4 separate regions of the Homo sapiens genome follow, and all the other regions are reported to be linked to region 1. The links are microRNA targets in miRTarBase. Many come from high-throughput screens and were not tested one by one. Region 1 holds a microRNA gene; each other region holds the end of a gene's coding sequence. Distances are between the middles of the regions.
Evidence for each region. Region 1 holds the annotated microRNA hsa-miR-26b-5p (UUCAAGUAAUUCAGGAUAGGU, at 1,467-1,487, shown strand). A microRNA usually pairs through its seed, bases 2 to 8, with sites in the 3' UTR of a target mRNA and lowers its output. Matches are read on the target gene's strand: a 7mer-m8 pairs with bases 2 to 8, a 7mer-A1 pairs with bases 2 to 7 and ends in A, and an 8mer does both.

Region 2: miRTarBase lists KIF21B as a target of hsa-miR-26b-5p. Seed matches in the 3' UTR shown: 7mer-A1 at 2,099-2,105 and 7mer-A1 at 527-533.
Region 3: the mRNA of PIAS2 is a reported target of hsa-miR-26b-5p. The part of its 3' UTR that is shown has no 7-base or 8-base seed match.
Region 4: the mRNA of RAB3GAP1 is a reported target of hsa-miR-26b-5p. The part of its 3' UTR that is shown has no 7-base or 8-base seed match.

The regions. Positions count from the first base shown.
Region 1 is chr2:218,401,191-218,404,392 of GRCh38, forward strand. It overlaps MIR26B (microRNA 26b), which reads left to right and starts at 1,456; the gene lies at 1,456-1,532. It overlaps CTDSP1 (CTD small phosphatase 1), which reads left to right. Exons shown (of 7, transcript NM_021198.3): 2 at 374-522; 3 at 921-1,025; 4 at 1,159-1,215; 5 at 1,845-1,937; 6 at 2,042-2,227; 7 at 3,107-3,202.
Region 2 is chr1:200,970,723-200,973,917 of GRCh38, forward strand. KIF21B (kinesin family member 21B) reads right to left here. Exons shown (of 35, transcript NM_001252102.2): 35 at 1-2,856. The coding sequence ends at 2,799. Among named protein-coding and RNA genes, the nearest start is that of KIF21B, 51 kb to the right of the region's middle. RefSeq lists an enhancer at 353-532.
Region 3 is chr18:46,809,915-46,813,116 of GRCh38, forward strand. It overlaps PIAS2 (protein inhibitor of activated STAT 2), which reads right to left. Exons shown (of 14, transcript NM_004671.5): 14 at 1-2,698. The coding sequence ends at 2,519. Among named protein-coding and RNA genes, the nearest start is that of ST8SIA5-DT, 54 kb to the left of the region's middle.
Region 4 is chr2:135,168,208-135,171,409 of GRCh38, reverse strand. RAB3GAP1 (RAB3 GTPase activating protein catalytic subunit 1) reads right to left here. Exons shown (of 24, transcript NM_012233.3): 24 at 700-2,865. The coding sequence ends at 2,629. Among named protein-coding and RNA genes, the nearest start is that of SNORA40B, 33 kb to the right of the region's middle.

The sequences.
Region 1 (3,202 bases):
GGCTGTCCTGAGCAGGGGTGCTCAGGTAAGGTGGGGTCAGGAGGCACCGCAATGGGGCTGATCAGCAGCAGTCATGGAGGCTGTGAGAGGCAGGGAGAGAGCACCCCAGGACCTCCTTCTCCAGGCCACGCACTCCCTATGTGGGCGCCTTAATACCTGCTAGACCTATTTGTCTGGGAGCTGCAGGAGCCTTGCAGTTGATTGTGGAGCCCTGACAGGGGCGTTTCAGAGAAAGTCAGGAGCTGCCTTCGTGTGTCTGGATGAAGGGGCCACGGCAAGATCCTCCTGGCTCAGGGGTTCACACCTGGGCACACATGCAGGATTCTGCAGGCCAGTGTGCACCGAGCCTCCAACTTGTGCCTCCCTACTTCAGGTGACCAGAAGTCAGCAGCTTCCCAGAAGCCCCGAAGCCGGGGCATCCTCCACTCACTCTTCTGCTGTGTCTGCCGGGATGATGGGGAGGCCCTGCCTGCTCACAGCGGGGCGCCCCTGCTTGTGGAGGAGAATGGCGCCATCCCTAAGGTGCGTGGGGGCCAGGTGGGGCCACGGGGGCACCTGGACTCAGTCTTCAGGGCTTTAGGGGAAGGGGCTCCTGACTGAGCTTTTCAGGATGGACTTGCAGACCTGAAAGGTGCAGAGTAGGAGGGTGGCAGCCTCCCCTGCCAGGCCCTGCCCACTGTGGGGAAACTGAATTCTCCCTCATAAGTGGAAGCTTTTTCCTACCTTGGTTTTTAGAGAGGTCTCAAAGAGCCAAGAGGCCTACCCAAGCCCTAGAGCTGGCAGGGGCAAAGCTGGGAAGGGGGAAGTATCTGTTCCTGGGGCCTGGGGTTCCTCTGGAGACGGCTAGGGGGAGAAGCCTGCGTGGGAGGAAGGACCAGGCCCGGAGAGAGGCACCCCAGCCAGCCCCGCCCTCCCTACAGCAGACCCCAGTCCAATACCTGCTCCCTGAGGCCAAGGCCCAGGACTCAGACAAGATCTGCGTGGTCATCGACCTGGACGAGACCCTGGTGCACAGCTCCTTCAAGGTGGGCCCTGCTCAACAGCCCTCAGCCCGGGTCTCGGGGGGCATCCCCCACCCTGGCCTGGGAGGGAGGTGTGTGCTGGACCCCATGCCCTGGGGCTCCTCCTCCAACTCCAGCAGCTCTTTTCCCCCCACAGCCAGTGAACAACGCGGACTTCATCATCCCTGTGGAGATTGATGGGGTGGTCCACCAGGTGAGGGCCAGGAAGAGGCAGTGGTGGGCTTGGCATCTGCCTCCAGACCCTAGGCTCTTCCCACCAATCCGGAGCGCCTCGGATGGGAATTGGATACATGTGGAATGTCAGAGGCCCAGAGAGGGTGTGAGACTTGTCCCAAAGTCACACAGAACCTCAAGGGCTTGTGCTGACTCCAAGCCTGCAGAGTGGGCTCCTCCTCTAGGCTCCCCCGTGCTGTGCTCCCTCGCCCCACCCTGCCCGGGACCCAGTTCAAGTAATTCAGGATAGGTTGTGTGCTGTCCAGCCTGTTCTCCATTACTTGGCTCGGGGACCGGTGCCCTGCAGCCTTGGGGTGAGGGGGCTGCCCCTGGATTCCTGCACTAGGCTGAGGTTGAGGCAGGGGAAGGGATTGGGAATTAGGGACCTCGTGAGGTAGGACTGGCCAGTGGAGTGGAAGTTTTGATCGTTTTCTGGCGGGGGGTGGGTACAGTTTCCCCAGCAGTGGTCAGGGTAGCTGGCCAAGCGGAGCCTGCGGGCCCAGTCTCCTTCCTGTGCGCCTCTGCCTCCCTGGCCCATGCCCTGCCAGCCCTCGGCCACCCCCACACTGCCCCACTGGCCCGCAGCCCCCTCACTGGCCCGCCCCCCAGGTCTACGTGTTGAAGCGTCCTCACGTGGATGAGTTCCTGCAGCGAATGGGCGAGCTCTTTGAATGTGTGCTGTTCACTGCTAGCCTCGCCAAGGTGAGCCCCACAGGGGTCCCGGGGCAACCCTGCCCTCCTACCTACCTCCCGCATGCAGCCCAATGAACCTGCGGGCCCCAGGATGACCCACCTCCTGCTCCCAGTACGCAGACCCAGTAGCTGACCTGCTGGACAAATGGGGGGCCTTCCGGGCCCGGCTGTTTCGAGAGTCCTGCGTCTTCCACCGGGGGAACTACGTGAAGGACCTGAGCCGGTTGGGTCGAGACCTGCGGCGGGTGCTCATCCTGGACAATTCACCTGCCTCCTATGTCTTCCATCCAGACAATGCTGTGAGTGCGGGCTGGACTGGGACTGGGACAGGAGCTGAGACCCAGGAAGGGGTCAGTCCATTCAGGCCACCTTGGCCTCTTGGATCCCCAGTTGGGGGGTGGGTGCCCTCCCAGTCCTTCCTGCATTCATTGCCTGTGCCTGCCGCCCACTCCCCTCATCCACCTGCCCTGTAGCCATATGGTCTTTTCCCCTCGCACAAAGCAGAGCATCTGCCATGCACAGGGGCCCCCACAGGGCAACGGAGTTTGGAAAGTTTCAATTTTTCGAATTGCCAGTTGTGACCTACTGATGGCCCACAGAATTAATTTAGTGGGTTCTGATTGGGAATTTTAACAAAATGAAATAGAATAGAAAATATCCGGTCGGGTGCAGTGGCTCATGCCTGTAATCCCAGCACTTTGGGAAGCTGAGGTGGGCAGGTAGCTGAGCCCAGTAGTTCAAGACCAGCCTCGGCAACATAGTGAAACCTTATGTCTACAAAAAATACAAAAACTAGCCAGGCGTGGTGGCGCATGCCTGGAGTCCCGGCTATGCAGAAGGCTGAGGTAGGAGTATCACTTGAGCCCTGGAGGCAGAGGCTGTGGTGAGCCAAGATTGTGCCACTGCACTCTAGCCTGGGCAACAGAGCAAGACCCTGCCTCAAAAAAAAAAAAAAGTATCCGAGTGCTTCGCACAGATAAGGTTAGGAATTGTGAAGCTTTTGCATTGTTACGTTATAAATGTGTTTTCCTGGGGATTGCTGTCAAAAAAGTTTGAACACTGTGGGTGAGGGGTTTTCAGAAACTGCATGATCTGAGTAGTGGCTACATAGGGCTGGCCTGGAAATTCTGCACCCAGGACCACCTGCCCCCCTCATCTTCCTACACCCACTTCCCCAGGTACCGGTGGCCTCGTGGTTTGACAACATGAGTGACACAGAGCTCCACGACCTCCTCCCCTTCTTCGAGCAACTCAGCCGTGTGGACGACGTGTAC
Region 2 (3,195 bases), not on the chromosome of region 1:
TCCAAGCTCTTCAGGCTCACTAGGGCTAGGACTCAGCCTGAACTCAGGCGTTTAGAGATTTGGGGTGCGGGGTTTAGAGAGCGCTTTACTCCTGGTCCCATGGCGTAAAGATGTGGCTGGGCCTGACAAGGCTCAGCCTCCAGTCTTAAGATGGGCACAGAAGGGCAAGAAGTAAGATGACGAGTCCCAGAATTAGGACAAGCCATGAGCCAAGGCCTGGTCTGAGCAAGGGCAGCCCCCTGTCCCAGACACAGGCACCCCCAATCTCACTTTGGACAGAGCCAACGTGGGGGGATCCTCCCGGGCCTGGGCCTGTCAAGTCTGCCTGCGGGACCCTGCCATTGTGCTCAAATCACAACCATTTTGTGCTTCCAACATTTAGGGTGCTTGTGCAGTGAGTGGAGCTGGGGGCCTGCCCCCTAACATGGACCTTGGACATCCCTGAAAGAGTGGGCAGAGAATCCAACTCTCATGAAGCACAACTCGGGGTGTCTCATGGATGTTGGGCTCAGGGCTCCTGAAGGACTTCAAGTTTAGAGAGTCAATGACACTTGCCAGGACAGCAGAGCTGGCCCCGCCGTGAGGTAGCTGACCCATCAGAAACAGCAGAAAATGGGCATGATGATGAGCACCTCTCGCAGGGCCATAAGATCACACTTCGTGCAAGAACACGCCTTGCAGCTACAGTGCAGTCACCCCAGGTGGGGCATCCCCGGCCCGGGGGTGGGAGCTCAAGGGGACAGAGTCTTACGTGTTTCTATCGCTTGTAAACAGTCATGCGGACGGATTCTTTCTTACAGGTTGCAAGGTCAAAACTTTCTGTTCAGGTTGGCGGGGAGGAGTGGGAAGAGATTTGTGGCCACATCTTAGAGCTAAGGGGGTTGCCCGGCACCCCCGGGGTGGCCAGAGGAAGAAGGATTTCCAGCCATTGCTGACAGACTGTTCAGGTCCCAGGAGACCAGCATCCAAGGGGGTCTCCTTCCTGCTATCAGCTGCCCCAGACTTCAATACCACATCCAGCAGGGCCAGCACCAGCAGGACAGCCGTCTTAGCCTCTGTGGCAGCTCCGAGGAGGGCACGGGGAAGGGACCAGGCCTCACTCAGCCTCCACTGGAGCCTGCCTCCCCCCAACACTGGGCGCCACATGGAGAGGGCTCCAAGTGCCCCAGCCCAAGACGGAGAGGAGCCAAGGGCAGAAACACAGAACCACCTCTGGAAAGTCCAAAAGTCACTGCGTCCTCTGAAGGGAGGTGGGGCTGGCTCTTGGCTCCCAGACTGAAGCGGGAAGCACAAGACCAGCGATGCAACGGAAAAACAGGGTGGGCAACTTTGGGTGGGGGTGGGGCGGGGGAGAGGGATGGAGCTCAGTCCCCCCCAAGGCCCACTCCTGTAATTCCAGAGTTCCCCCAACAGGGGGCGCCAGAACACTGATTTAACAATTTCCCCGGAGCTCCGCGTCCCCAGCCCCGGGGCAGAGAAACTCTGCCAACTCCCTCTTCCTTGATAATTTTCTGCAAGGGAGGGCCTGCGCTCCATGCCAGTTTTAAGGCCGAAAATGTGTCTCCTGAATAACCAGAGAGAGAGAAGCTGGAGAGACTCCCCGGCCCAGTGGGGGACTGCAGGGCTGGGGAGGGGCGGGGGTCAGGGTGCCGGGCTGTCCTCCCCATCCAAGCCACCTCCCAGCAGACACAGCCCCCATGCTGCTTCCTACGTGGCCCACGCAGGACTGTGGGGCAGAACCCCGGGGCCTGGGCTGTGGGGTGAGCGCCCCCGCCTTCCCGGGGGCGCTGGGCACAAGACCTCGCGAGTGAGAAGACACATGTGGTGCCGCGGGCATGGCTGGTGTAAGGCTGCCCGGCACGGGTGCCAGGCCCCGGAACGGAGGAAGGCACTGAGCGTCAGGCGGCCTAGAGGCCAGGGGTAGCTAGAAGACTCCCTGGGGGCTGTGTCGGGGACAGGCCTGAGCTGCAGAGTCGAAGGAGCAGTTCCCTCCTCTGCAAAGCAAACAGAGGAGGCGGCCCTGGAGGGCCGGGGCAGCGGACTCCCTTTGGGATTTCTGGCCCCCAAGAGCTGAGGGAAAGAATATAGGGGAAGAAACTTCAAGTCCGTTTCCAGGAGGCAACAGCAAAAAATAAAAATAACAAAATAATAAATAACTGAAGTATTTCTGACCATCTCCCCAAAGGAATCTTTCTAGCAGCTCCACCTTGGCCCCATCCAAAAGGGACCCCAGGGAACTGTTGGGGCCAGTTGGGGCTATCTGCGGGTTGCCAGAGGGTTAAGGGTTAGCTGCAAGGCCCAGCCGCCCACACCTGGTTTCCTTAGCTACCTGAGGACTTATCTTTTTGGGCTCAGAGGCAGGTGCAGTGGCTCTAGAGGCTGGGCTGGGAGAAGCGGGGAGGCCAGCTCCTCGGAAGGGTGGGATGGGGCCAGGCTGCTGCACCTCCCCACAGGGCTCCACCACTGGGCCAAAGGCCTGAGAAAGGGGCAGAGCCGGTTCAGCAGGAGACAATGTGGCCACGACTGCCAGGAGGGGAACAAGAAGGGATAATGCCCTTTGGCTTCACAGCTTAATTTCCTCCCCAGCCTCTCTCTCACCCAGAGGCTCCTGAGAGGCAGGGGAGGGATGAGGGAACAGTGTCCTGTGGGAAGGCCAAGGGAGAGGGAGGAGGGCAGGAGAGGGGGCCACGCCCTCTGTCCCCAGAGCAGCTGGCCCCATCGGCCGGGTCACAGCTTCCCTTCCATGGTGTCCAGGCTGCTGGGGTCGAGGGTCCGGGGGCATCCCTCTGACCTCACTCCTAGGGTGGGCCGCTGTGGGGTAACCGCCGGACACTCCAGAACTTCACCGTCAGGTCACTGGGGTGGAGGACAAAGTGGAGGGGTGCCGGTCAGCTCTTGCAGTGGGCTTGGCTGGCTGCCCCCAAAAGTAGAGGATGAACTGGATTCCCCAAACTCCCCAAATGTGGTTGGGGCTGGGAGGCAAGCATGGCTTACGGGGAGGTGGACTGCAGGTGGTGGGGTGCTGGGCAGATGGAGAGGCCTGTGCACTCAGAGGCCCCCAGGGGAGCTTTGTCATGGGTTTTCTTTTTTTGGGGGGGTGTTTCGTTTTGTCCAGGCCTGAAGGCTCCCCCTTCTGCTCCCTGGCACCCATCTCCTGGGGCCTGTCCCACTGTTCATGCTTGGAAAAGGACGGTG
Region 3 (3,202 bases), not on the chromosome of region 1:
GCAAAATAAACTACTAGAAAGTCAGGGTCTGGATAAGAAACAGTGACCACATTAAAGGCTGACGGATTAATAATCATGATGTTGCCATAAGGCCAAAGTCATAAAGTACTAATGCTCAAGACAGATAAACAACGTAAGCCCCAATTTCAAGATGATAAACTTCAAAGTGTATTTTTTAAAATGCAAGTTGCCTGTATGAAATAAATTAAAAATTTATATGTAATTTCAGTGTAAAACACCAAAACCGAACATTAAAACTGTTCACAGAAAATAGAAAAAAAAACAAAAAAACAAATCACAATTATAAAAGCACAGAGATATCAGTTATAAGAACCAAGTAAATAAACTAATTTCTATTAATATTTTCATTTACTTTATAAAACTTTGTTGATTAAATTGGGGGAGTCTCTGACAATCTAAAGGGTAACAAAATAACAAATATACATCATTTCTTTATAAGTCATACCACACAAACCAAGTTAAGTTTTTTCTATCTGATTACAGAGTCAATAAATATTGCATCTGTATTTAGAGCAGCAACATAAAACTTTATTAGAAAGAAATACTATATCTGGACCAAAAAACTGCAACATGGTTTGGAAATCTAATGACTAAGAAGGTAAAACTGGCAACTATGTGCAACTACTGCTCGTAGATTTGGGTTTGTTTCCCCCCCAACATCTTTAAAATAAGCAGCCCCCACAAAGGGATAATCCATTGAATAAGGAGACAATGTAGCCAAAGAAGGGATTTGTGGAAAACCATATGAATTTAAATCAACATAAAAAGAACACACAAAGGCCATGGAAACTTGAGAAGGTGAAAGAAAAAAAAAAAAAACCCCAAGCAAGGACAAGTCAGCTCCTTGGAGCTGCACCAACTCTTAAGTAGGATGTCCCTATTCTAACGGAAATTGATGAGTCCACACCTGGGCACTTCAGTTTGAGAAATCAATTGGTTGGACTGGCCATTAAAAAAAGGACTTTGTTTTTAAGGTAGATAAAGCTTAGAGAGAGAAAGCTAAACAGAAAAGTACCAAATCCTTGTGAACTCAAAAATGATTTAGGAAGTCAAATGAAGCAAACTAAAAAACTGGATGAAAATGTTTCTCTAAGAGTAAAACCCAGTTTTCTCTGTGATTTAAAATCAAACAAACACACTATAGAAGAGAAATTTTCAAAGTGCACCCAATAAAACCTCAGAGGTTCCCTGGAGTGTTTGGGGTAGCATGGATTGAGACAGGAAGTGGGTTCAGGCCCATCTCCCCCAACCCTTCTTCACTTTAATTCAAACATTTCTAATTCTCTTTTGTCGTTTGTAGTTTCAGGTAAGATATCATTTTAAAAAAATGAAAAAAAAAAAAAATCTAATGCTGTCCCTTTCCCTAAGTTTGAAAATCACTGCTGAGACTGAAATTACATTGGTGAGAAATATGATCATCATAAATCTAAAACACATTTTCTATGTAGTGCTACCAAAATACAAAGTTTCATCAAATATTTCACTACTATTCTGTAAAATAAATGAGAAAATTAAGTTGTTGGGAAGAAATTAAATTTTGTTATTACCACCTCCCAAAATCTGCTCTTCTGCTGGCTCCAAGATATCAATATTTGATAGTGTGAACAAATTTCTAACAAACATTCCAGTCACACCGTACCCCAAAGACATTTCATTCAATGGCTGCATAGTTTCTTTTTTGAGAAGGCAAGCCTCAAATTTATAGAAAACTCTAGAATGAAAAATGTACAATTACTAAAAACATAATAACACACTTTATGTCAGGGCAGAATCTGCATAGTGCTTTTAAACATAATCACCAATGAAGAGTAGCCAAATCCCAGAACTTCACACAGCACTCATTAGCAAACAACGTCAAAGTGTAAATGATAAGCAGGAAAAAAACCAAGTAACACGAATGCCATTTTTCTTTGATGCAATCACGAAGAAAAGTGGAAATGCAGGACGAAAAGTGGAATCCAAGCTTTGGCCACGTACTGAAACTTCATTACTTCAATGAAACAGAGCAAATCTCCATGGAAAGGACTCATTCAGCAAACATTAAGTTCTTTCCATATATTTTTTTTCCTTCACGTAAGGTTAAACAGAAGTTGCTGTCATTCTAGAATCAGTGATTACAATTTTTTTTTTAATTAGAAAAAAGGTTACTTGAATATTTACATAATTTTATTGCTCTTTATTTTAACAAAAACTTTTTTCACTGATTTGTAGACTCCATCCATTAACGTATGAAAGTGAAATCCATCTCTCAGGAAGATACAGTTATGGTTGAATGTATCTGATGCTGAGAGTACAGCATAATTAAGAAAAATCCTTGCATGTCATTTGGTTCTTGTTGCAGTCTTCTGTGTTCACCCCTCAGAAAGCAAAAGAATCCATCTGACTTTCAATAAATACCAAATTATTAAAAAAAAAAAAAAAAGAACGTTTCCACAGACTAGAGATCCAAGAAAAAGCAGTTCTGATGAATGATTCCCAGAATCAAGTGAGTCCTCCTTTAGTCCAATGAGATGATGTCAGGAATGTTACTTCCACTGCTGGTTATGACCCCTGTCTCACTCCTGCTGCTGGATGAACTAACATGAGTACTGCTTTCATGGGAGCTGGTGGTGGTGACAGACGTACTGCTTGCTGTTAAGGGTGAGGTGAGACTATCCAAAAACATAGGAGGACAGTACTGCTTGAAACAAACAATGATGCCAATGAGGAAGAGGCTACTTGATTTTAAATAAAGAGACTAGAAATTATTAGATATGCACAAGCAATAGTCACATATTTAAATCCCAGTGGGATTTAAAAATTGCTCAAAACTTCACATCTTTGGGTGGAAGATAGCATGAATTTAGCTATTTTACATTATTTAGAGAATGCAGCATATATTCTTGATTCTCTCTAAACTTGTGGAACTTGTTTGCTGACCACATACAAAGGTAAAAGTACAATGTCAACAATAACTGAAGTCATTTAATACTAAATATTGGCCCTAATCTCAAAAAGAATTTGCTCCCTAACTGTATTTAGTTGGGTGTCAATTTTGAAAGAATTGTTGATCTTACACCAGCATTTTTGCTTAATAACATTTTTAAAAGTATTTGTTAGCCTTTCCCGGTATGGATTGAGTATCAAACAGATCCTTTATGAATGTTAAGGCTGACCAGCTGAATGATGGCATTGGACTCCT
Region 4 (3,202 bases), 83 Mb from region 1:
GATATACGACAGCTGTATACTTTCTTAGCATCTCCTCTCCTGCCAGAGTGTGGCCTTTCTAAAACCCACCATGTCACTCCCCTGCACAAAACCCTTCAGTGACTCACTACCGCCCCAAAGGCAAAGCCCTAACTTGTAGCTGCGGCTTCCCCCGAACTTCTTGGTCTTGCCTTAGTTCACCTCACCATCTTCATTTCTTGCCCCTTCCCACTCTAGATACCACACTTCAGCCAAATAGAAATGTTGGCTGCCCCCCAAATAGACATTTTCCCTTATTTCTGGGATTTTGCCCATTCCGTTCCTCTGCTTGTAATACGCTTTCTGCCCCCTCCTGTCAGTTACCTTTTGCCCCAACTCTCACCCTAGAGTGGCCTTCTTCACAGTGGCTTCAAGGCTCCTGGCAAGAAGGGAGGGCAAGCCCCAATGTGCAAGGACTTGTCAAGTCTCTGTCTGTTGACCAAAGAAAGACATGGCCGAGACCAGATTGAAGAGGTGGAGAAATAAAGCACTTCACAATGAAAATCATGATTTCATTGCACACAGGGCTGGAGGAATGCCTGGTTCTCTGCAAGCCATTTCCCATACGCCCCCCATGCTTTCCCCAGTGCCTACTCAGCTTCTGGTCTCAATCCCAAAATCACACCCTCTGGGGTAATTTTCCTGATCCTCAAAGCCTGGGTGAAGAAACTCCTACAACACTTTATGACATTGCTGCATTTATTACTCCGTACTGCCAATGAATACATGAATGTAGGATTACATTCAATTATTTGTAGGATAAATGCAGGCCCTCCGATCCACACAGCAGAGTTGACTATACTCAACATTTTGTGGCAACGTGGTGTCAGTTTTCCCTGTAAGGGAGTGTGTTTTGGTTTCTGTTTTATCTTCATTGCTTGTACTGTACCTGACACAAAGTGGGTACTTAAATATATCTGTGAAATAAATACATAACTATCATAAAAATAAAATGGAGTACTTTAAAAAGGCACAAAGAATGTTCTTGAGACCACTGCCTTGTTAGGCTCAGCAGGCTGCAAACATTAGAGCTGAGACAGCACAAAACCACATGAAATTAGACTGAAATGCCTCAGCGGGAGAAAATGAAAGAAAACGCCACAGAAAGCGACACTTTCCTTTTATTAGATTCACAATGCCTTTGTAACGCCCAACCTCTCCTTTGTAGAATTTTTCTTTGTTAGAAAACAGACAAACTCTGTCCTTAGGAACCGTCTTCTACTTGGTACAGCACTGGCCTCAGGCCGCCTGCATCTGCGTGGACCAGTAAGAATGAAGTCCAGCAGCATAGAGAAAAGCATCATAAAGGCTGGGAGGTCATCCCCCAGGGCCTCCCCTACTTCACATACACAGAGACGTGTGCATATGTCACACACACACACATATTATATATAGATATGTATTTTTTTTTTTTTTTACAAAAATAACAGGGTTTGCACAGCTCTATTAATTTTTTAAAATTACACAGGCAAGGTTTATGCTTCAGTATAACCATTTTTACTTTGGATTTAAGTGGGAATTTTAGGCCTAAAAATAAGATTACCAAGCAGAGGCCATCTAGCCACACAGACACAAGACATCTTGAGCTCCATGAAACTAGAAATGTGGTGATGTCATCCTCACACGGGGGGGCTACACATCCCCATCGATTATTTTAACTAAAATACAAAAGCAAAATAGTGTGTTAAAATAATCCTCTACTCAATGCATTAGCACATATACCAAATTATACTATCTGCATGACAGTCTCTAGGTACCAAGACTGTATTTTTGCAAGTGCTATTCTCTACTTCATTAAATACAGTACCCAGCCAGCAACCACAAAAAGAGAACGCATGCTGTACAGCAAGAGAAGGGGAGGGAGACGATTTTCAGGGCCATAACTTCCATGGCAACCAAAAGAAAAATAAGTAAGACAAATCTCACATGACAGATATAAAACTAATTTGCAGTGACATTTGATATATAGTTTTATCAGAAGTAATACATTTAGGTTACAGTTACATGAAAAAGAGAAACTATGTGAAATTATAGGCTTTCTCCTAGAATATCCAAAATGCTCATCAACAGTTAATTAGTACAAGAAAGATGACCACCAGGTGATTGAATAGACAGAATGTCATGTAGTATTTTAAAAACACAGATTCTGGGACTAGAAGCTACCACCAAAATATCCAGAAATCTGAGTTAACAGGTCCTTTATTTTGCACACTTGCTGCTGATATATAGAACCACGAAGTGTTTGCACAGACCACGAATGCAGCCGCTAGCCTAGAGGCTGGTCACAGAAGAGAATGCGATGAACACCGTCCTGCCAGTGTGAGGACGGAGTGTCTGATGTGTTTGTGTCCCCCCACCACCCCCCCATATACAAAGGCCATCTCTAGGGCAGAAATCTCTCAACAGCTCAAGCCCATCCTCGCTGCCCCCTCCACGAAACGACACAGCTCAAGCTTGGTGCTGGGAAGTCTTTCCGATGCTGGTTTGATTCCTGATCACCCAACTGGACAGGGCCCTCTCCAGGACCTCCCAGGTTCTCCCTGGTACCTTCCCTCCCTCAGGAGGAGGCAGCACTGTCTCTGAAGCCACCAACGAGTAATGCTAGAAGAATCAGAAGAAGGAAGTATCTGATGAAAAGGCACCTGCAAGTCTAAAGTCCTCTTTGGTGAGAACACTGTACATCCGCTGAGGCAGAGCTTTGGAGTAGGGAGCAGGGCGCGGCACAGTGGTGCGCAAAATGAATTCCCGGCCAGCAGGGGGTGGGAAGTCTGACACGGAGTTCTGCCTTCTTTCCTCTGGGGAGCCCATTCTCTTCAATTCCTCCTCTGGTGGAGTCATAGCTGCAGCCTGGAAAAGAATCAAATGCTAAAGTCAAAAGCAGGTCAAATGCTAAACTCAGATGCTTTTGAAGGACAGATGAATTAACATAATAAAGATATGAAAATGTCCCACGTTACTCAGTAATGCAGTCAGCTATATGTTAAGATTACTCAAAAACCACATAACACAGCAAATGCAAGAAGCTTGAGACACTGCATGAGCAGCCGGGCTGGAGACAGACAGGAGGGATGATGACTGCCAGGCAATCTGCTCTGAAGAGAGAAGGCCATATTTACACATCTGATGAAAAAGGACCTCGGAGCTGTGCTGCTTTCTATGTTTCTTCCAGCAATGACCCAAGTCT